Regions from separate parts of the Homo sapiens genome. Here region 1 is linked to region 2. Evidence: fine-mapped expression QTL. A gene starts in region 2. The other region holds a variant in brackets. All regions are shown on one strand. Distances are from middle to middle. Region 1 overlaps LRRC20 (leucine rich repeat containing 20). Region 2 holds the start of LRRC20 (leucine rich repeat containing 20).

What was found.
Region 1: its variant is fine-mapped to the expression of LRRC20 in whole blood (INTERVAL, PIP above 0.99).

Annotation. Positions count from the first base shown.
Region 1 is chr10:70,295,314-70,307,411 of GRCh38, reverse strand. It overlaps LRRC20 (leucine rich repeat containing 20), which reads left to right. Exons shown (of 5, transcript NM_001278212.2): 5 at 5,904-8,437. The coding sequence ends at 6,058. Among named protein-coding and RNA genes, the nearest start is that of NPFFR1, 17 kb to the right of the region's middle. The variant C/A (reference allele first, on the strand shown) is at 4,947.
Region 2 is chr10:70,376,974-70,389,071 of GRCh38, reverse strand. It overlaps LRRC20 (leucine rich repeat containing 20), which reads left to right and starts at 6,447. Exons shown (of 5, transcript NM_001278212.2): 1 at 6,447-6,523. RefSeq lists enhancers at 5,943-6,042, 6,573-6,772, 6,617-7,236 and a silencer at 6,173-6,542.

The sequences.
Region 1 (12,098 bases), 82 kb after region 2:
AGAGCAGTTAGTGGAGGTATATACACATATTCATTGACAGAGCAATCAGTCTTGCTCCTGGGCATATATCCAAAGACTTTCCCACATTGGCTCCTAAGGACAGATAGAGGCCACTTGGGTGTCATTGCTGGCAGAGTAGAGAGGTACAGTGTGGTGGGTGCACAGCATGGTATACTAAGCAGCAGTCAAAAGCAGATGGATTCGATGTACACAGTCCTCGTGGATGGAATGTAAAACACGGCTTAGTCAGTCACACTTACTATTGGGCACTAATACTCTTCCCCATTGAAAGGAACCAGGACTTCTTGGAGAAGTGGCTGATTCCAGGGCTGGGAACAGGGAAGGCTCAAGACGTGTCTTCCTAGAAATTCAGGCAGTGCATCCAAAAAGTGCTGGAGCCATGTCAAAAGATACAGGAGCCAGGCCAAAGGGGCTCCCAGTGGTCAAATCTGGACAATTTGAGCATCAGAATAATGAAGTCCAATAATGAATTGTAAATCACTAGAAACATAGGAGTCTATATTGATAATAGATACATGGAAGAGAAGTAGAATACTGAGGACTGTTGACATTAGGAAATCATTTTGCAGCCATCATAAAGATCAGGTCAGGTAAGAATCTTTAGTGGATGCTAAGTCTAAGGGTGATGAATGCTAAATGTTGGTGAGAACCAACATTTAGGATATTTGCACGCTCTTAAGATGTGTCCCCACAGACTTCTTGTTAGATGCAAGGGAGAAAAAAAACACACAATAGTAATTATATAGTGGAGAAAGCAAGTTACACATTGATCAAGTGATCAAAAGTAACAATAGAAATGAATTTGGTGTGCCTCTGATGTGATACCCCAGGAAGGACATGCACCTGTGCAGTCTTCAGCTGAGGATGCGAAGTCTCGGTTGAATCGTGAAGAAACACCAGACAAACACAAAATGAGGAACTTTTAAAAAGGGAAGGGGGCAGTGCACTACTCCTCCAATATCAATGTCATAAAAGACAAAGGGGCCCAAAGAGTTAGAAGTAAATGCAATCCTTGATTCCAGACTGGCTCTGGTACTAGAGGGGGAAGTGCTGTACAGGATGTTAGGGCACCTGACCACACTGAACTGTGGGCCATGGGTTAGATACACATTCTATCAATGTGAATACCTGGAACCCTTAACTGCACTGTGGTTATGTAAGAGAATGTCCCAATTCCTAGGAAATATACACTGAGGGCCATGACGTATGTATGGTACACTCAAATGATTCAGAAAAAAAGCGTGTGTGTGTGTGGGGTGGGGGAGAGAGAGAGAGAGAGAGAGAGAGACAGAAAATGCATGCACAAATGATAGAGCAAATAGGATAAAATGATAACAATTGGCGAATCTAGGTCGGGCGCAGTGGCTCACGCCTTGGAATCCCAGCACTTTGGGAGGCAGAGGTGGGCAGATCACAAGGTCAGGAGATTGAGACCATCCTGGCTAACACGGTGAAATCCCGTCTCTACTAAAAATATAAAAAATTAGCCGGGCGTGGTGGCGGGCACCTGTAGTCCCAGCTACTTGGGAGGCTGAGGCAGGAGAATGGCGTGAACCCGGGAGGCGGAGCTTGCAGTGAGCCGAGATCACGCCACTGCACTCCAGCCTGGGTGACAGAGCGAGACTCCATCTCAAAAAAAAAAAAAAATTGGCAAATCTAGCTAATGGTCATCTGGTATTTTTGCTAGTTTTTATTTTTAGTTTTGCAACATTTTATACATTTGAAATTATTTCCAAAGGAAAAAAGGAGGGGGGAAGAGACTTAAGACAATAATATTCAACTTTTCTGAGTAAAAAAATTTAAGACTTCTGAAACTGAAAGTCCTAAAGACATTTGAATAAAAACGTGGCCCATGCTATGTGGTTCCATTTATATGAAGTTCAGGAATAGACTAAATTAATGATGAAGAAGATCAGAGGGTATAAACTGGAAAGGGGCACAAGGGAACCCTTTTGGGGGTTCTTGAAATGTTTTCTATTTTTATCTGGGTGGGGGTCTCATACATCTGGGTATACATCACATATATACCCAGAAGAATGGAAAGCAGGGTCTCGAAGAGATATTGGCGCACTCATGTTCTTAGCAGCATTGTTCATCATAGCCAAGCGATGGGAACAACCCAAGTGACCATGGACAGGTGAACCTCAAGGTTCATTCACGTTATGACATGGGTCTGAAGTTTCTTCCTTTTTATTATTTATTTATTTAGATAGAGTTTCGCTCTTGTTGCCCAGGCTGGAGTGCAGTGGTGTGATCTCGGCTCACTGCAACCTCCACCTCCCAGGTTCAAGAGATTCTCCTGCCTCAGCCTCCCAAGTAGCTGGGATTACAGGCATGTGCCACCACACCCGGCTAATTTTTTGTATTTAGTAGAGACAGGGTTTCACTGTGTTGGTCAGGCTGGTCTCGAACTCCTGACCTCAGGTGATCCACCTGCCTTCGCCTCCCAAAGTGCTGGGATTACCGGTGTGAGCCACCGTGGCTGGCATTTCTTCCTTTTTAAGGCTGAATAATCCTGCATTATCAATGCCACGTGCCATAATGTGGATGAGCCTTGAGGACATTATGCTCAGTGGCATAAGCCCGTCACAAAAAGGCAAATACTATATGAGTCCACTTATATGAGGTACCTAGAGTAGTCAAATTCATGGTGGTTGCCAGGTGCTGGGAGGAGGGAGGGATGGGGAGTTTTTGTTTAAATGGGTATAGAGTTTCAGTTTTGCAAGATCGAGTTCTGGAGATTGGTTGTAAAACAATGTGAATGTGTCCATGCTGCTGAACTGTACACCTAAAAATGGTTAGTATGGTAAATTTATTTGTATTTTACCACAATTAAAAATTAAAAATAATATTTAAAAAAGATTGTTATTGGTGCTTAGTAAAATATATATATATATATATATATATATATATATATATAAAGAAGTGGCCTGATATCTATATAGCACAGTACCATTTGCCTAAAGTAAAATATGTGTATAATATCCATTAGTGTGTTCTAAAATTAAACACAAAACAACCACAAAAACAAAAAGCCCCCAACCGTGGGCAATATTTTGTGCCTAGGAGAGGACAGGAGCTGGCTCTTGCCATCACTATCGGCCTGAGGTTGTGTCGGACTGCATGGGATGAGGTCTGGCCCCGTCCTGTGCTAGGGTGGGAGGTTTTCTGGGATCCGGCTGCTCACGGAATTGGATCGGGGAAGAGCGGATGCAGCCAGAGCCTCAGCTTGCACAGGGCACGCGTCGAGGGCAAGCGTCCTAGTGTTGTCTGAGTGATCCTAAAGGTTAGGTGGGAGGAACTATAACAGGTTACCAAGTGTTAGTATAGCTGCTGCCTTATTCTGGTCCTTTAAAAAAAAAACTGAGGCGAAATTCACATAACATAAAATTAACCACTTAAATTAACCACATAAAGTGTATAATTCATTGGCATTGAGGACATTCACAGTGTTGTGCAATCATCACCTCTATCTAATTCCAAAATACTTCTGTCACCCCAAAGGAGTCCCCATATCCTTTAAGCAGTTGCTCCCCAATTTAATTCTGTTTGAGGAAATATTAGTTATGTCCATTTTCAAGATTAGGAAAACAAGGTACGGGAAGTAATACAAATTTTTAGGTGGTAAAGCTGGGGCATCAGCTTAGGGCTGTCTTAAATTTCATGTCTATGACACTAGGCTGTGCTGCGTCTTCAGTTATAACTGAGAATATTGGACCTGGAATTAATTATAGATCACTACTATCTTTATATTTATTACACTGTGGCATTTTTGATGAGTGTTGGAAAATGCCCTAGTATCTTATGTAAGTTAGGTGGATGACAGCTTGAAACTTGATTTCCAAATTCTACACGTTAAATTTTGGAAACTAGAGCTGGGACAGGAGATATGTTTGTTTTGATTCCAGAGGACATTCCATCTCTAAGTGATGATCCAGCATAGTGATGATCCAATATAGTCTGGAACTTCCCAGATAGCTCTTATGGAGCAGTGATATAGGTAGGGCACATTATCAGGAGTCCTGATAAATTCAAACTGTAACTAACCTCCCTTAGATAGACCCAAGATAGTCATGTCTGCTTCTTTAGGGACTCTTTAGGGGTATGATGGAGCAGATGGCATGATAGAGTGGCATTCCCATAGTTAAGAAGAATTTCCATAGGCCACTGTATGCGACTTCCTCTCTCTTGGCAAAAATATTCTTTATGCACATAATAGTCTTTGTTTTTTAATAGTTTTATTGACACATACTATACAATTCACCCATTTAATATATGCAATTCGGTGGTTTTGGCATATTACATTATTTTTTAATTGTGATAAAATATATATAACAAAATGTGCCATTTTAACCTTTTTTTTTTCTTTTAAGAAATAGAGGGCCGGGCGCAGTGGCTCACGCCTGTAATCCCAGCACTTTGGGAGGCCGAGACGGGCGGATCACGAGGTCAGGAGATCGAGACCATCCTGGCTAACACGGTGAAACCCCGTCTCTACTAAAAATACAAAAAATTAGCTGGGCATGGTGGCGCGCGCCTGTAGTCCCAGCTACACGGGAGGCTGAGGCAGGAGAATGGCGTGAACCTGGGAGGCGGAGCTTGCAGTGAGTCGAGATCGCGCCACTGCACTCCAGCCTGGGCGACAGAGCGAAACTCCGTCTCAAAAAAAAAAAAAAAGAAATAGAGACTGGGGTCTCACTATGTTGCCCATCCTGACTTTGAACTCCTGGGCTCAAGAGATTCTCCTGCCTCAGCCTCCTGACTAGCTGAGACTATAGCCTGGCTGATTTTAACCATTTTTAAGCATACTGTAGCTCAGTGGCATTAATTACTTTCACCATGTTGCGCAACCATCACCGCTATCTATTTCCAAAATATTTTCATCACTCCAACAGAAACTGTAGCTATTAAGCAATAAATCCCTA[C/A]TTCCCCTTCTCCTAGCCCCTGGGAACCTCTGTTCTACTTTCTGTTTCTATGAATTCAACTACTCTATGTACCTCACATAAGTGGAGTCATACGGTATTTGTCTTTTTGTGCCTGCCTTCTTTCTTTAGCACAATATTTTCTCTTTTTTTTTTGAGACAGAGCTTTGCTTTGTCGCCCAGGCTGGAGTGCAGTGGTGCGATTTCCCCTCACTGCAACCTCCGCCTCGTGGGTTCAAGCAATTCTCTGCCACAGCCTCCCAAGTAGCTGGGATTACAAGCACCCACCACCATGCCCGGCTAATGTTTTTGTATTTTTAGTAGAGATGGGGTTTCACCAGCTTGGCCAGGCAGGTCTTGAAATCCTGACCTCGTGATCCACCCGCCTCACCCTCCCAAAGTGCTGGGATTACAGGCGTGAGCCACCACGACTGGCCTAGCACAATGTTTTCAAGGTTCATTCATGTTGTAACCTGTATCGGAATTGCGTTCCTTTAAAAGGCTACATAGTATTCCATATATCATATATATATGGACATATATATGGACAACATAGTATATATCATATTGTTTATCCATTCATCTATTGGTGGACATTTGACTATTATAAATAGTGCTGCTATGAACATTTGTGTAAAATTATTTGTTTGAATGCCTGTTTTTAATTCTTTCAGTTCTACCTAGGAGTAAAATTGCTGGGTTGTATGGCAATCCTACGTTTAACTTTTTGAAGCAGTTGATTCTTATTTTTAAGGATGCTTTCCTCCATGTGGTTGTTATATCCTGGTGGGCCCGATGGCCCTTTGCACAGGGCTGGGCACCAGGAGCTGAGCCCACGTGCAGTGGGCAATGGAGAGCTGCCCCTCACCATCAGGTGCTCAGAGTCCTCATGGCCCATTGTCCTTCTTTTCTGTCTGGTTGGCCTCCACCACTCTAACCTGTCCATTCTGTCCCCAATAGATGTGCCCGTGGAGAAGCTGGCCGCCATGCCAGCCTTGCGCAGCATCAACCTCCGCTTCAACCCACTCAACGCCGAGGTGCGCGTGATCGCCCCGCCGCTCATCAAGTTTGACATGCTCATGTCTCCGGAAGGCGCAAGAGCCCCCCTACCTTAGGCCACCCTCCTCATGCCCACCCAGCAAGGGGCAGAGGCCACAGGCCTGGAACCCTGGAAGGGAGGGAGGCCCATGGGAGGCCAAGCCTGGGGGCTGGGGGCGGGTGGGCCGAGCAGCACGTGGTGGGTGGGGTGCAGCTGGTCTGGATAGATAGCTTACAGCAGTAGTGGGCTCTGGAATGCCCAAGGGAAGAGGCAAGGTGGGGCCTGCAGCCTGGACTCGGCACTCACAGCTGCTGTGCAAACTCAGGCAGATCTCCTGCCCTCTCTGAGCCTTGTCACTTGAAAAAAACAGGACCCTTTCCCTCCTTTGGGCTCCCTGGAGGTTTTTAAGCAGTACGTGCCTCCAAGTTACCTCCAGATCAGCAGGCACAGGTGGGCATTGCCAGGTATTTTCTGAGCCCCTGCGGGTTTGAGGCCTTGTTTTTAGTGCTGAGAGCCAGTTGCTGCCCTGAGAAGAGAAGACAACCTCCATCTATTTATTGCTTCCTGAGAACTGACCTGGATGCGGCCCTCTGCAGGGCCCAGTCTTCAGTCCTGTGGTCCCTGGACTGGTGGGAACCTGAACTAGGAGTCCTGGGAGAGCTGTGGTGGGAATATGGGCTGGCACTGCTGCAGGGCAAGAACATTCATGTAGGAGCCCGAGGACCAGCAGGCTGGGAATGGGGAGCAAGTCACGTCAGCTCTGTCATTCCCCACAGTTAACAAATTGGCGGGGTGGGAAGTCCTGAGTGCTCCGTCCCTCTAGCATCACTCCTGAGCTGCGGGAGAGGTGGCCCAGAGAACAGCAGAGTCAGTTACACCTGCAGCTCTTGTCTAAAGTGATTAGATGGCCACCCTCACCACTGTCCAGTCCAGCAGCAGCCTGGCTGCCTTGTCATGGCCTCCTGGGGGCAGAAGGCGATGTGGACCACGGGATTTGTAGCCAGCCAGCTCCCAGGCCAACGCCCAAAGCCCTGATGACCTGGTTCTTCTGAGGCCCTCAACCTGGCATCTTAGGGTATGGTCAGGCAACAGGGTGACCAGCTGTCCTGGTTTCCCAGGACATGGAACTTTCAATGCTAAAACTGGGACAGTACCCAGCAAGTGGGGATGGTTGGTCCCCTACCAGGAGAGGGCCTGGGGCTCTTGCTTCCCGAGAACGCCTGTGGCTTGAAGAACCTTGACTGCTTGGTCCTCAGGTATCTACCTCCCACCTTCTCCTCATCTGTGGAGCAAGCCAACTCAGTGCCCCAGACCCCACCTGATCTGCATCTTTGTTTGCATCTCCAGAGACACCTGAGGCCCCAGAGCTTGAGGCAAAGCCAGGCCGTCCAAATCCTGTGTGCCGTGGACGAGTGGCCACTTTACTACTCCTAAGGCTAAGATGTTGAGAGCTCAGACCACTGCTCAGAGCAGTAATCCCTGCTCAGAATGCTCCCAGTTCCCTCGTCCCTGCCCAGGTCTCTTGTCTCTTGGGAAGGAACTGATAGGTCGGGCCATTGTTGGGCCATCACTGAGCGCTCAGTATCTCAAGAGACTCTGTTCATTCTGCTCGTATCCCAAGGCCTGGTTGGTCAAACTCTGGGCAAAGGGTTTTCAGGATGAGGAGGTCAAGACAGGATCTCCAGAGCTACCGAGTTCATCTGTGGGTGTTGGGGGCAAGTGGGGGCTGAAGTCCTGTGCAGGCTGCGCTGGCCCCACCTGCCTTGTGCCCTGGAGTGGGGTTTCTCCTTGTTGAAGAAGAGGCATCCTTCTCTGATGTGCACAAACACAATGTATGACCAGAGCCTTGCAACTCAAAGTGTGGTCTGTGGACCAGCAGCGGCAGTGACACCTGGGAGCTTGTTAGGAATGCAGAGTCTAGGCCTCACCCTATACCTCCCGACTCAGACCCTGCATTTTAGCAAGACCCCCAGCTGATTCCTATAAGCACTTTAGAGTTTGAGAAGCAAGGACCTAGGCTGGGGATGTCCTCCGAGCAGAGGGTGAAGTTTCTCTCAGTTCTCTCCCTGCCACTTCCAGGGATCTGAGCCTGTGCTCAGCCTCCTCCCTAACCCACCCTGGGAGACACTTGGCCTGTTAGATTGTTCCAGAGTCTGCATGGCACTCCTGAAGAAGGGAGTGTGACCTGCAGTCACCAGGAGATGAGGGTTAGGTGTGCCCAGCCCTCCAGACCCGGCCTTTCTGGTTAACCCCTGCATGCCAAGCTGCCTGCTGCCCCAGGTCCTCACCTCAGGCCTTTGAAGGGGCAGCTTCTGGAAGTTGTTTTCTCCTCTGCTTGGAGAGTTTGCCCTTGTCTGTCTTGGAAAGTGTGGGCAGCCACAGATGCCCCCAAATCAGAGCTCACAGTGAGTGAGCCCCTAAGCTTCAGTCTGCAATAAAGAATGCATTGGTTTCATCTGCCTGGTTGGTGTTTGATTCATTCTCACTGTACAGACCTCCTATAGCCTGGGCGTCAAACCAGCCCACATGCAAGAGGGGTGCCCTCTTGTTGAAAGCACGAGGTAAAGAAGGCTAGAACGGGATGAAACGTGGATTATTCACAGGTGGGCACAGGTGCAGCCAAGCAGAATTGGTGCGTGCCCCCCAGCTGCGTTACTGCAGGATGGCTAAACATCAGGGGGAGACTGTGTATCTGGGAAAGGATGAAGAGACCCACTATCTCCACATTTCTCTCTTACCAGTGCCAGAAATTATTCCCTTAGTAATTTGTTCCTCTGAGTCCATGGTTCTCAAAGAGGGATCTCTGGGCCAGCAGCATCCGCAGCACCAGGAAGTTAGTTAGAAATGCGAATAGTTGACTCCACCCTAGATGTGCAGAATCTGAAACTCGGGGATGGGGCCCAGCACTCTTAACAAGCACTCCATGTGGTTCCGATGCCTGCTGAAGTTAGAGAACTACTGCTCTGGGTTCAATGTTAAAGTCAGGTTTTGCTTTTCTTAAGTCTGAGAGGCCAGCTTAAGTTTGCCTTGAGTTTTAGTCCAGATGCTCCATTGTTTCTAATTATTATTATTATTATTACTATTTGAGACGGAGTTTCACTATTGTTGCCCAGGCTGGAGTGCAATGGCGTGATCTCGGCTCACTGCAACCTCTACCTCCCAGTTCAAGAGATTCTCTTGCCTCAGCCTCCCAAGTAGCTGGGATTATAGGCGCCCACCACCATGCCTGGCTAATTTTGTATTTTTAGTAGAAATGGAGTTTCGCTATGTTTGTCAGGCTGGTCTTGAACTCCTGACCTCAGGTGATTCACCTACCCCGGCCTCCCAAAGTGCTGGGATTACAGGCATGAGCCCACTCCCAGCCGATCCATTATTCCTTTTATTTTATTTTTTATTTTTGAGACGGAGTCTCACTCTGTTGCCCAGGCTGGAGTGCAGTGGCACGATCTCAGCTCACTGCAACCTCCACCTTCCAGGTTCAAGCAGTCCTCCTGCCTCAGTCCCCTAGTAGCTGGGATTACAGGCATGCGTCACCATGCATGGCTAATTTTTGTATTTTTAATAGAGACCGGGTTTCACCACGTTGACCAGGCTGGTCTTGAACTCCTGGCCTCAGGTGATCCACCCGCCTCGGCCTCCCAAAGTGCTGGGATTACAAGTGTGAGCCACTGCGCCTGGCCCAATTATTTTTATTTAACAAACACACATAGAGCTTAGTGGGTACCAGGCAGTGTCTTAGTGCATTATACCTATTAACTCATTTAATCCCTATAACAATCCTAGCTAGCTTTGTGATTTGGATAAATCTCTTTTCCTCTCCAGGCCCTGTTTCCTGTCTGTAAAACTAAGGGGCTAAACCAGGAGACCCCTAAGGGCATTTCCAGAACTCATATGGTCACTATTTCTCAGCTCCTGAAGGCCCTGTGATCACTTATAACTGCCCCCTGTGGATTAGCCTGGACTCAGGCCGCTGGCCTCCCCCACCCCAAAGGTCAGAGGTCAGAGAGAGGACTCCCACCTGCGTAGTTTTCTGTTGAAGGATGCCTCACCGAAAACATCACCAGATCCACCTGTTAATCAGGAGAAGCTGATTCTACTTTTCCTGCTCGAACTTGACAGTTTTCCTAGCGTGTCAGACTTGGGAAGACAGTCAGGAAGTGATGAGAGATTTCAGAGTTTGGTTTTAGGTGGGACTTTCAATGCAGAGAAGGAAGCCTCGATTAGGATTGGGTAAAGATCAGGACATAGTTTAGGATCGGTGGACACAGCAAAGGGGGATTTTGAGGCAAAGGGTTCAAAGAGTCTTGGTGCGTAAACTCTCTTTTGATGTGATTAAGAGTTGATCAGTTTGCTGTTGCTTTAAATGATTCCTTCAGAAAGCTCCTGGAACGAACAGTAAAGTTATTTACAACTTTTTCTTCCTGGGCAAGAGTTTCCAGGACTAGTACTGTTATGCTGGAAAAGATGGAGGAATAATGTGGACGGGAAGCTGTGTGGGGCTACAGGATTCTAATTGTAGTCTCACCCAAATACCATGTTGTACCCCAGAGCCCCGCTTTGGGTCTGTTCTTCACATGAGATGTGCCCGTCCCTTCACAGAAAGCCAGCCCTGGGAAGCAAGCAGCAGTTCCTGAGCGATAATTGGCACCTGCCCCAGAAGGCCTCGGCAGAGCCCTGAACCAGATGTGAAGGGCAGGAAGGGCGGGCCTGGGGGAAGAGCGTGACTCAGGCAACTGGGCAGGAAAACCTCTCCAGCCCATGAGCAGCCAGGCCGTGCTCTGACTGTGTCTCCAGGCCAGGCAGGCTCGATCCATGCCTGAGAAAAGGGACATAGCCGAGCTGCGTTAGGTCCAAGCAGGAGCACCCCTGGAGCTCCTAGTGTTTTATCAGCACCAGGCAGGCACTGGTATGTGGTTTGGGTTTTTTTGTTTTTTGTTTTTTTGTTTTTGACGCAGAGTCTCGCTCTGTCACCCAGGTTGGAGTGCAGTGGTGTGATCTTGGCTCACTGCAACCTCCACCTCCCAGGTTCAAGTGACTCTTCTGTCTCAGCCTCCCGAGTAGCTGGGACTACAGGCGCGCACCACCATGCCCGATTAATTTTGTATTTTTTTAGTAGATACAGGGTTTTGCCATGTTGGCCAGGGTGGTCTGGAATTCCTGACTTCAGGTGATCCGCCCGCCTCAGCCTCCCAAAGTGCCGGATTACAGGCATGAGCCACCACGCCTGGCCCAGTGTGTTTCTCATTTATTGTTAACATCACCCCTCTTGGTGCCCACTCTATGGATGAAGAAACAGGCTTAGCATGTGACTAGGAAGGAGCAGGGCTGGGGTTGGTTTAAACTGGGTTGCAAGTTCCGGGTTTTTGCTGTGAGCCCCGGGTCCCTCAGGAGGCCAGCTTGGACTGAAGTGGTTGATTGCTTTCTTTAGCTGACACGGTCCTTCTACCAACCCATTCCTGTGAAAAGACCTCTCTGAAGCTTTACTTTCCTCATCTATAAAGTGGGTGCCAACACTACCTTTCCTAATCCCATAGGGTTAAGAACAGGTGACAAAGGTAAGTGCATCAGCATGGTGCCCAGTTCACACTCCAGAGAGTTTCCTCTCACATCTGCTTGTGCCCACCCTTAGGCATAAGGCTGTGTGGGCACAGCCTTTAGTGCCCAGATAAGAACCTCACCTCTCTCAGTGCCGTGCAGATCTGCATGCCACACATACCTGGAGCTCATCTGGCCAATGGGAGATTTAGTCCCACAGAGGATGAGAAGATTGACAGTTCCCCGCTCCCTCCATCTTCATAGTTCAGGAATCTACAAAGGCTCTGTCTCAGGCCTTTGAGGATGATGAAGTACTCAAGGCGTTGGCTGGGAGCCAACTGGAGCCCTTGCTACCCTATGTGTGTACATTCAAGTTCATGCCAGCAGAAGCACCTGGGAACCCTGCTTCCTGTAGCTGGGAAGCACTTAAGTTGGGGTGCCCTCCAGGGTGGACTCTGCAGGACTACCCCAGTGCATGACTGCAGGGGGTGTCACTCACAATGCAGTCTCAGTAACTGGCACCATTTGCATAGAAAACTGTGAATGGGCCACCTGGCGCTGTGCTAGGGCTGGTGCTGCAT
Region 2 (12,098 bases):
AGGCTGGTCTCGAACTACTGATCTCGTGATCTGCCTGCCTCGGGCTCCCAAAGTGCTGGGATTACAGGCGTGAGCCACCGTGCCCGGCCACAAGAAGGGAGTCTTTTCGGGAAAGGGCTATTATCAATTTTGTTTCGGAGTAAAATCACGAACTGAATTCCTTCCCAAAGTTAGTTCAGCCTACGCCCAGGCATGAACAAGGACAGCTTAAAGATTAGAAGCAAGATAGAGTCGGTTAGGTGTGATTTCTTTCACTGTCATAATTTCCTCAGTTATAACTTAGCAAAGGCAGTTTCAAGTATAGATGTCACAACCAGGACTGGATTCTAAAAGACTGACTCTGCCTTTTTTTTTTTTTTTTTTTTTGAGACAGAGTCTCACTCTGTCACCCAGGCTGTAGTGCAGTGGCGTGATCTCTACTCACTGTAGCCTCCACCTCCCAGGTTCAAGGGATTCTCCTGCCTCAGCCTCCTGAGTAGCTGGGACTACAGGCGTGTGCCACCACACCTGGCTAATTTTTGTATTTTTAGTAGAGATGGGGTTTCACCAGGTCGGCCAGGCTGGTCTTGAACTCATGACCTCGTGTGATCCGCCCACCTAGGCCTCCCAAAGTGCTAGGATTACAAGTGTGAGCCACTACACCCAACCAAGCCCATATATATATATATATATATATATATATATATGTTTTTTTTTTTTTTTTTTCGAGGTGGAGTCTCCCTCCATTGCCCAGGCTGGAGTGCAGTGGTGTGATTTCTGCTCACTGCAACCTCTGCCTCCTGGGTTCAAGCGATTCTCGTGCCTCAACCTCCCAAGTAGCCGGGACTACAGGTGCACGCCACCAAACCCAGCTAATTTTTGTAATTTTAGTAGAGACAGGATTTCACCATGTTGGCCAGGCTGGTCTCAAACTCCTGACCTGAAGTGATTCACCTGCCTCAGCCTCCCAAAGTGCTGGGATTACAGGCATGAGCCACTGGGCCCAGCCCCAAGGCCCTATTTTTAAGGTTACTTTTTATCTATGGCAAATGATACTATGTTCCACTTGTGGAATGATATAAAATTCCTTTTTAAAAATAAATGTTTTTTTAAGTTAAAAAGTGAGTTGAAGGAAAAATATAAGTAAATAATACTATGGTGTGTTGGTAAAGCATTTCCTTCAGAAAAAAAAAAAAAGTCATGATTTGTAGTGTGTGCTGATTTCTATGGTGTAAGTTCTTCCACCATGCCTATTTCTAGTAATCCAGGTGATGGCACTGTACCCAGAGCTGGGAAAAAATGGGCAGAAGGAGCAAGCTCCAAGTCTGCACAAGTGACTCCAGCTCACCACTGGGTGGGGCTCAGATATAGCAAAAATCAGGAAGGTGGTATGGCAACAACTGACGCTTGAGAAATGCCTCTTGAGTCACCTTTGATTAGAATCGTATTTTCCATAGCAGAGCACAACTGCCTTGAGTTCTTGCTAATTTGACTACTTCTTGCTAATTTTCGTAAACCTGCAGTACCTGGCAGGGTAAGAGGGGTGGGCACCTCTCAACAGGCTGAACCTTCTGGAAGAGGTACTGGGGGAACTACTCTTCTGCCTTAGGATGGCAGTGACTTGGAGTTACCTCTAGTTCCTGGCTGTCGGTAGCTCAGCTCCAGGGAGAGGTGCGGCCCCAGGTGGAGGACAGAGTGAGAAACAGGATGATGTGTCGGGGCAGGGTCTGACTCACACCTGTGGAAGGAAGGACCTTCTCGGTTCGTTTTTATTTAAATGTTCCTTCCTCCCTTCCTCCCTCCCTCCCTCCCTTCCTTTTTTTTTTTTTTTTTTTGGGGACGGAGTTTTGCTCTTGTCACCCAGGCTGGAGTGCAATGGCCCAATTTTGGCTCACTGCAGCCTTTGCCTCCCGGGTTCAAGCAATTCCCCTGCCTCAGCCTCCCAAGTAGCTGGAATTACAGGTGCCTGCCACCGCGCCCGGCTAATTTTTGTATTTTTAGTAGAGACAGGGTTTCACCATATTGGCCAGGCTGGTCTCAAACTCCTGACCTCAGGTGATCTGCCCACCTCGGCCTCCCAAAGTGCTGGGATTACAGGCGTCAGCCACTGTGCCCGGCCTCTTCTCTTTTCTTTTCTTTTCTTTTCTTTTCTGTCTTTCTCTCTCTCTCTCCTTCCCTTCCTCCCTCCCTTACCTCTCTACTTTCTTGCTTTTTTTTTTTTTTTTTTTGAGATGGAGTTTCACTCTTGTTGCCCAGGCTGGAGTGCAATGGCACAGTCTCGGCTTACTGCAACCTCTGCCTCCTGGGTTAAAGCAATTCTCCTGCCTCAGCCTCCCTAGTAGCTGGGATTACAGGCACCCACCACCACACCCAGCTAATTTTTTCTATTTTTAGTAGAGATGGGGTTTCACTATGTTGGCCAGGCTGGCCTTGAACTCCTGACCTCAGGTGTTCCACCCGCCTCAGCCTCCCAAAGTGCTGGGATTACAGGCATGAGCCACCGCACCTGGCAAAGATGATTTTCTTTCAAGAAGTGTGAGATAAGGGCCAATATGAGGAGAATAGAATGGAAAAGGAGAAATTTACAGTTTTATATTGTATTACAGCTACTGCAACAAAGTGCCGCAGGCCAGGTATCTTACCAACAGAAATTCATTGTCTCACAGTTCTGGAGTCTAGAAATCTGAAATCAAGGTATTCGTTGGGTCCTTCTGAGAGCTGTGAGGGAAGGACCTGTACCAAGCCTTTCTCTTTAGCTTGTAGATGGCCATCTTCTCCCAGTGTCTCTTCACATGATCTTCCCTCTATGCATGTCTGCCTGTCTACCAATAACCACTTCTTATAAGGACACCAATCATATTGGATTAGGACCCACCCTAATGACTTCAATTTTAACTTGATTCCTTCTGTAAAGACGCTACCTCCAAGTGAGGCCACATTCTGAGGTACTAGGGGTTAGGACTACAACATATCTTTTTTTTTTTCTGGTGGATGTGGGGTGGGCGCACAAATTAACTAATTAGCAGGCCTAGAAGTTCTTTGATGAGAAGTAGACTCTATCAGGGTCTTCAGTCACAGGAGTTGAGATGCTGACTCTGTCAATGGGATACTGTCCCTTTTACAAGTGCCCTGAGAATTTATCCTGCCCAGTGGGGGTCAGACCCTTCAGGGAATAACCACAGAACAATTTTGTCTTAGCACAAGACTCTTCCTATCTGCAAGTAATTTGCAAGGATTTCAAACATCTCCGGAGGCTGTAGCCAAGCCCTGGCAAACATCCGAGTCTGTTCAGGGTGTACAGCTTCTGACTCAGGTGGCCAGGCTTGGACCACCTTGCTAAGGGGTCCAGGCCTCTAAAGATGCTCTGGATCTCCTCGGAGGAGACTATTTGTTTGGGGCCAGTTGAGCTTCTTCACCGAGAAGCCTCAGGGCCTTCCCTTGCACAGCCCTACCTCGCTGATTCCCTCACTGGCTGTTCTGAAACTGAAAATGGCCACGAACGGTGTGAGGCTTGTAGACCCTAACAGTGAGGGATAATATTTTGCCAATTGACTGCATTGAATGGAGTCAGTAAACATAGTGACTGAAAATCTTACCACTGTTGATAAGTATTTTCTGAGTACCCAATAGGTATTGTGAGAATACTTTTTTTTTTTTTGAGACCTGGTCTTCCTCCTGGGCTCTAGGGCTCAAGCTATCCTCCCACCTCGGCCTCCTGAGTAGCTGGGACTACAGGCCCAAGCCACCATGCCCGGCTACTTTTTGTATTTTTTGTAGAGATGGGGTTTCACCGTGTTGCCAGGCTGCTCTCGAACTCGTGAGCTCAAGTGATCCTCCCGCCTCAGCCTCCCAAAGTGCTGGGATTACAGGCGTGAGCCACAGAGCCCAGCCCAAGAATACTTATGGAGTCCTGTGACAGATTACAAAATTAGCCCCAACTCTCTGCTCATCCCTGTACTCATATTCTTTGCAATGTGACTTCGCTGCTTCTCCCATCAGGAGATGGAGTCTATTTCTTCACCCTCGAACCTGGGTTGGCCTTGCCATTTGGTTTAGTCGATACAACTGTGGAAGTGGACTAGTGCCGATTTTGAGCCTAGACTTTGAGAGACCTTGCACCATTCCACTCGTGCTCTCGGAGCCCTGCAGCTCCATGTGAACAAATTAGGCTAGCCTGTTAGTAGATGAGAGACATGCGACCTACTTGCCTCAGTTGGCAGCTAGCCACTTCCCAGAAGCAGAGCCTTCTGACTGCCTGGCGATGAACCCGGATGCATGAGGGAGTCCAGCTGAGACCAGAAGAACTGCCCAGCTAAGCCCAGCCTCAAATACTGACCCATAAAATCATGAACTAAATAAGTAGTTATTGTTTTAAGCCACAACTAAGTTTTGGGGTGTTTTATTATGCAGGAAACACTGATGGATACAAGCACTGAACATGCGTCAAGCTCTGGTATTTGCAATCAGGCAGACTCTCGGGAGTAAAGACTTGTGCAGAGATGATAGAATAATGGGTATAATGCACTAAGTGCTCTGGAGAAGCAAAAACAGTAGGAATAGAAGAGGTGGATTTGAGCTAGGGAGGGATCTTGTCTCTGTGGAGTTAGAGGGTCCAGGATGAACTGCCTGGGACAGGGGACTGTCTGAGGGAAAGTATGAATGTTGGAAACCCCAGGCTGGGGCCATCAGCCAGCAGTATATACTGAGCCCTTACCATGGGTACAGAAACACTGTACTGGCTGTCTCAAGTCTGCGTATGGACTAGCAGAGGAGAGAAGACATCCACGTGTAAAAGTTGGGTAGAAGTGTCATGCTGGTTTTCAGTGAAAACAGAAGTAGCTATGCCTGCTTTGTCCACAGTGGCAAGCAGCATCTCGGCTTGGGCAGAATGGGACTCTACCCATTAGTTATTTATATCTGGTACTTGCTATATATCTGGCAGGGATGTGGTGTTGATGGGTTGAGAGAGATCTCCATAGTTTTCCCTGGGAAGGCACAAGGGGTCAGAAAACATGGCTGCTTAAGTATCCACTTGACTGGTAACCCCTTGAGGGCAGGGTCTGTGTCTGATTCATGTCAGTATACCCCAAGACACAAGGCTTTGCATATACTAAGCAATCAGTTTCAAAAGACTTACTTTGGAGATATTTATCATCCTCTTCTCTTTATTCCTACTAACCTATTGTAGTTTTTTCCTAGGGCTGCTATAACAAATGGACATAAACTGGGTGGCAACAGAAATTTATTCACTTACAGCTCTGGAAGCTATTAAGTCCAAAATCAAGGTGTCTGGAGGGTTAGTTCCTTTTTGGAGGCTCTGAAGGAGGAATTATTCCCTGCCCGTTCCTAGCTTCTGGTCCCTGCTGGCAGTGCTTGGCACTCCTGGCCTTGGAAATGCATCAGCTGATCCCTGCCGCCATCACCACAGGTGGTTCTCCCTGTGCGTCTCTTCTGTGTCTCTTCTCTTACAACGACACCAGTCTCAGTGGATTAGGGGCCCGCCCTACTCCAGCATGACCTTAACTCATTACATCTGCAACGGCCCTACTTCCAAATAAGATCACATTCTGATGAACTTTAACATATTGTTGGGGGTGGAGAGGGCATAAGTAACCCTTAACATCCATCGAGGCCCAAGGGAATGTGTGTTCTTTGACTGCCTAGACCCCCTAGAGGCGGAATTAAATATTCTTTTTTTTTTCTTTGAGACAGAGTCTCACTCTGTCCACTCAGGTTGGAGTGCCCATCTCGGCTCACTGCAACCTCCGCCTCCCGGGTTCAAGCGATTCTCCTGCCTCAGCATCCCGAGTAGCTGCGGCTACAGGCGCCTGCCACCACGCCCGGCTAATTTTTGTATTTTTAGTAGAGACGGGGGTTTTGCCATGTTGGCCAGGCTGGTCTCGAACTCCCGACCTCAGGTGATCCGTCTACCTCGGCCTCCCAAAGTGCTGGGATTACAGGCGTGAGTCGCCGCGCCCCGCCCTCAAGTCATATTTTATAGATGAGAACATTAGGATTGGAGACGCAGGGCCGAGACACAGGGCCTTGCATATACTAAAAACCTCAATGGGCACCCGAAGTCATCATAGGAAAATTTCCCTATGCTCCATGTTCACGTGTTTCAAAGTATCCCTGATCTGGCTAATTCAACTCCATTCCCTCGAGAAAACCCAATCTGGAGCCCCGGTCCTAGAGATCCTGGGATGTACTGCGCGTCCCACTCTGTATCTCCGCCCCCTCAGGCGTTCTCCCTCTAGAAGCAGCACACAAAGCGGTTACTCCCTGCGGCCGGGAGCGCGCGGGCTGCCCTTCCGCGCGCCACCCCCGCGCGCGCCGCTCCCCCACTGATTGGCTGAGCGCATCCCGAGCCCAGCCTGCTCCCGCCGCGGCGCCGGTCCTGGCGCCGGGATTGGCGGAGTGGCCGCGCGCGCAGATCCCGCAGCCCCGCGCGCCCCGCCCCGCCGGCTCGGAACTCGCCTGGGGCGCCGCCGGCGGCGGAGGGAGCGTGACTGCGCTGCGCAGGGCGCTAGGAGGCATTGTCGCCGTAAGTGGAGCCAAAAGCGGCCCGGAGCGGGACCACACGCTTCTTGCCCCGCAAAGTAAATGTAGTCCGAGGTCAAGCGTTGCAGGGGCTGGGGGAGAGAGGGCGAGAAGTGTTCCGATTTTTGCAGCGTCCCCTCCCCTCCCCCAGGTCACCCGGTGGAAAAGAGCAGCGGTGCACCAGCGGAGGCTCTGGCGGTGCCAAGGGGCTCGGCATGCGCGGGCTCTTGCTTGCTCACTGCACCTGGACCCCGATGGTTCAGGGGAGTGGGTGCAGAGGTGCCAGGGAATAGGGAGCTCGGAGAACCGCTCCCAGGCGGGCCTCCATTCCTCGCGGGAGGCGCCCTTGCTTGGAGAGGCTGCTGTGCATTTCGTCCCCGAAGCGACACTTTCGGGGTTTGCTTCCGCTCTGGGGAGCTGCAGACGCCTGCTCCAGAGCGTGCCTCTCGGCCTCCGGGCAGCGTGGGAGCCCCGGGGCCTCTGCGATCACTACCATTCTTCCCTCTGCCAGCTTTATTCTCCCAGTCCCCGCCTGCCGGGCCAGCGGACGAGGTGCCATTGGCTGCAGGCACCGGGGGTGAGGCGGATCCTGGCACGCGGGGCTGGGGGACCCTTGCCTGGCTACCGCGCGTAGTGCTGGAGGCTCAGTCCGAGGATGCCTAGATGTTAGCGAGGGAGCACGCGCTGAGCTTCCCGAACCCCATGCCACAAAAACAAGGCGCCAGCAGGTCCCGCTCACGTCCCAGCGGGCTTCTTTCCCTGGGGTGGGGAAGTGGGTCAACTTCGTTCTGATCTGAAGGGGGGTTTGGGACTATTTGGGTCGCTCCTCACCTCCCCACCCGCTCCCCGGCTTGGCATGGTCCAGAGCCCGGGCTGGAGCCAGCGGTAGGGCCAGCTTGCACACATGGCTCCGGAGGCTCCGGTTGCCCATCCGAGCCCCTGCCAGGCTCTAACGTTCCCAACTGACAACACCAGTAACTAAATATAGGAGCAGATGGTGGGGACGGGCTGTCGCAGCGGCTCCTTTGCAGAGGTCTCCGGACTGCAGATAAGGTAGAGTTATTGATGGTAAGGGCTGGAGTCAGGGGGCCAGGTCAGGGTTTAAGCAAAAATCACCCCTCCCCCAGCCAGCCTGAGTCCAGGTGAAACCAGGTTATAGGGACAGGAGGGCTGTATTGCCAGCTCCCCCAAAGCAGGACAACGTTTTTGTCTGGCATTGAATTTATTACATCCAAACTTCCTCTCTACACCTGTTTGATTACCTACTGGTAATGCCTTGGTGTGGGAAACATGTAATGGTTCGCAAAGTCCTTTCCCAAAAGTTACATATCAGTTACTTCCCACAATAATCCGGTGAGGAAGGTGGTATTTCCATTTTACAAATGGGACTGCTCACAACACTGTTAACTTTGCAAAACTATGGATTAGGCTGCCTTCCTCAAAAAACTTCTCTTAGTTCGCTACACAGAAGCAGAGGACAGCCTTGTAAGAGGGCTGCAGTTCCCTTCCTCAGTAATCTGGGAGCCCATTGGCTCCCTGTCTCTCTCTCTCCTGAATCTCTTTGTGCACCTGCTGCTCACCCCTGTCCCTTCCCCCTGGCCATGCCATGTGCCTTCATGCCCCCCTAGGCCTGGCCCTGTAGCCTTACTACTATCAGGCTCATCCTGCCTCCCAGTGGGAAGCTTGTTCTAGCCCATACCCAGTCTCTGCCCCTTTACTCCCACAGTGGGGGCCTTATGGAAGGTGTCCAGGAGACGTTTGCTGGATTTAAACATTTCACCGGACCAGGATGCTCACTCTGAGGAATGGGGTTGAGGGTGTGTGGAGAGGGCCATGCTTTGAGGATGTAGGCAGTGTGAGTATGAGCTTCGACCCTGTGCTGAAGTGTCTCTGGGATTTGGAGTGCTTTCCCTGACATTTTCTAAGGCCTACCCTCTATTGCCTGGGACTGGCTGGGGCCAGTAGTGCCAGCTGGCTGGGGTGCCCCAAGCGGCGATCTGGCCCATGTGGGCTGATGGTGTCTGTTTCTGCCTTTTGGAACACTCTGTGACTCTCCACTACCACCATCCCTGCAGATGGCATTGACCAGGTACCCTGAGGAGCTCAGGCCTGTCAGCTGGACTTCATGAAACAATTCTTCCTTGTGGAGAAAGGGGCAGTTTTAGGTGAAGGGAGGATGGCTTCCTAGCTAGTTAATAAGCGTGGTGATTTTAAGCAGCGGGAACCTTTTGGGGGTCCCGAGCACATTTTTGCTGTACTCAGAGCATCCTCCATCCTCTGGCATAGAAGGAAGGGGCCCTTCTTCCTACTGAATTGCCCTGACACCTAGACTTTACATGTTGTTTCTGTTCCTGTACCTGTGTACACTCTGACCCACACAATAGGACGTCTGAACTTGCCACCAGTGGTGAAATTTTTAATCTGACTAGTTTTCATCAGTGGTCTAAGGCAAGGGTCCTCAACCCCTGGGCTGTGGATGGCATAGGTCCGTGGCTTGTGAGGAACCCGGCTGCACAGCAGGAGGTGAGCACCAGTAAGCATTACCGCCTGAACTCTGCGTCCTGTCAGACCAGCGGCCGCATTAGATTCTCCTAGGAGCCTGAACCCTATTGCGAACTGCGAATGCGATGGATCTAGGTTGTGTGCTCCTTATGGAGAATCTAATGCCTGATGATGTGAGGTGGAATAGTTTCATTCCTCTCCCACTACAGTGGGAAAAATTGTCTTCCAGGAAACCGAAAAGGATGGGGACCGCTGGTCTAAGGCACCACCTCCCCATCTGGTGGTAGCTAGTAGAATTGCAGGCATAGTGCCTGATTGAAAATATTCAGCCCAGGTGATCCCACCAGGCCTACCCCCTACCCTGGGCAGCTTGGTGGCTTCCCTTCCTTTCCCTCTCTGCTGTGAGGCCAGGATTGCTTCAGTGCTGTTCTTCAGAAAGCTCTTCCTCATCAGAATCGCAAGTCGGAGCTGCTTCCTGCATTTCTTTCTCCCTCTTCCTTCTTATCCCTCATACCTAGGAGATGCTCAGTAAATGTTTATGATTATTGATGATGAATTGGAGATGGAGAAAGGAGGGAGCATGGAATGGTGGGAAGAGTCCTAGGCTTGGACTTAGGATACCTGGGTTTTTTGTTTTCATCTAGCTGATTTGCCTCCCCTCTTGGGTCCTCAGCTTTCCCATTCATAAAGTGGTTAGAACAAGTCACCAAGATGCTAGCAACATGGCTATGATTTAGGCTTAGGGGTACGGTCTTCGAGGCAGCATGGTGAAGTTGTTGGGTCCAGTTTGCCACAGTCCTTTCTATTCCCTTCTGCCCTGCACTGGCTCGCCTTATGCAGATTGGCCACCTGGCACTATTAGGCATTTGGTTTTTGACCCTTCTCAATTTAGACAGTGTCTTAGATTTGTTGTAAGAGTCTCTTGACCTGTATTCAGATTGGAAACACAAATGATGTCTGTTGATCTTCACCATTAGGGGATACTAACTAAGCACCTGTGTTCAGTGTGTGGAGAGAAGCACAGTATAGGTCTATTCCCTGGCCCCAAGCTGCCCACAGGTCAATGGGGGAGACAAGTGTTGGTTTGTTGATTTATTTATTTTTGAGACAGAGCTTTGCTCTTGTCACCCAGGCTGGAGTGCAATGGGACGATCTCGGCTCACTGCAACCTCCGCCTCCTGGGTTCAAGCGATTCTCCTGCCTCAGCCTCCTGAGTAGCTGGGATTACAGGCATGTGCGACCATGCCTGGCTAATTTTTTTTTTTTTTTTTTTTTTTGAGCGCGAGGTTCACTCTTTGTTGCCCAGGCTGGAGTGCAATGACACAATCTCGGCTCACTGCAACCTCTGCCTCCTGGGTTCAAGTGATTCTCCTGCCTCAGCTTCCCGAGGCGCCCGCCACCACGCCCAGCTAATTTTTGTATTTTTAGTAGAGATGGAGTTTTACCACGTTGGCCAGGCTGGTCTTGCATTCCTGACCTTAGGTGATCTGCCCACCTCGGCCTTCCAAAGTGCTGGGATTACAGGTGTGAGCCACCATGCCCGACCATTTTTTTTTTTTTTTGTATTTTTAGTAGAGACGGAGTTTTACCATGTTGGTCAGGCTGGTTTCCAACTCCCGACCTCAAGTGATCCACCCGCCTAGGCCTCCTAAAGTGCTGGGATTACAGGCATGAGTCACTGCGCCCGGCTGACAAGTGTATATTTAAAAGCTCATAAATAATCCAGGTGACTTGTGCTAAGTCATTAAGTGCTACTGAAACTCAGAGGAAGGAGAGAACACTGAGGCAATAAGAGGAGATTTCCTGGAGGTGGACAGATAGAAATTCCACTCATTCCTCAAAGATGAGTTCCCTCAGTGTTTTGTTCAGACTCACATGAGTATTAAACTGGGGTTATATGCTGCTGTTACATCCACATATGCACTGCTTTATCCTCTTAACTTTTATTGAGTATTTACGTGTCCTGGGCTCTGAGCTAGACAGGTGTATACATTTTGTGCTCTCAATCCTCATATTAACCTAGCAAGTTGGGTATTACTAGATCTCCTATTCACATGAAGAAGAAACAGGCTCAGAGGAGTTAAGAAACTCTCCCAAGGCCTCTCAGCCAATAAATGGGGGTGTTGAGCATTTGACCTGTCTCCAAAATCAGTGTTTTCCCACTGTTCTGTATGTGTGTGTCTCAAACCTTTAGTGTCAGCCTCTTTAGTGGAAATGCACACACATACTAAACTCACAGTAACTCCCTGAAGCAGATGGGTGGGCTTGGCCAGCCCTGGCTTGGCCTTGCCTGCCCTGCTTGTCCAGTTGACCACGTGGGAACTTTTTCTTGGTGACTGTTAGCTCTTAGCACTGTCCCCATGCCCCTTCTCTCTGCCCTTCGCCTTCTTCTGCCTTTGGCCCTTGGAGTGAGTTCACTGGAGCTTCTTGAGCTGTCTGTGAAGCTGGGACTGGGGTCTGGGGGCAAAGAAGGGGTGCTGACCTTGGACTTGAGCTCATTCCTCTCTCTATGGGGTGCTGCTATTTTTATAAAAAAGTGAGCACTGGCTATGGAGCTGGGCTGACCCTATTCTTGCCGCTTACTCACTTTGACCTTGGCCAGGTCACCTAGCCCCTCTCTGTGCTCATTTCCTTCTCTGTAATAAACAGGGAGTTGAGGGTGTTTGCAAGTCCTTATGTCTTAACACCTTATCATTTTGTTTTCCTCACCTTTCTTTCAGTCTCTTTTCCTCTAGTGATCCAATTTCTCTTCTCTCATTTCCATCTCCACCCCCCGGCCCCTGCCCGCTTTTCTTGCAGATAAACTCAGCATCAGGCTGATAATCAGGTCTGCAGGCTAGTACTGTAACCTCTCCTTCCTGTTGGCACATGGGAAAGGAATTCTTAGAGACCACCCACCGCCAGTCCGTGTGTTCTGATGGGATCACAGGGCTCTGATTTGCCTTCGTGTCCCCACTTCCTGCCATGCACAAGGCAGATATGGGTGGGGTGAACAGGGGAGCTGGGGAAATTGTCCTGGGCAGGGTGTGGACAGGGGACCAGCTTAGAGGCTGTGGGATGGAGGGACAGGTGTCTTT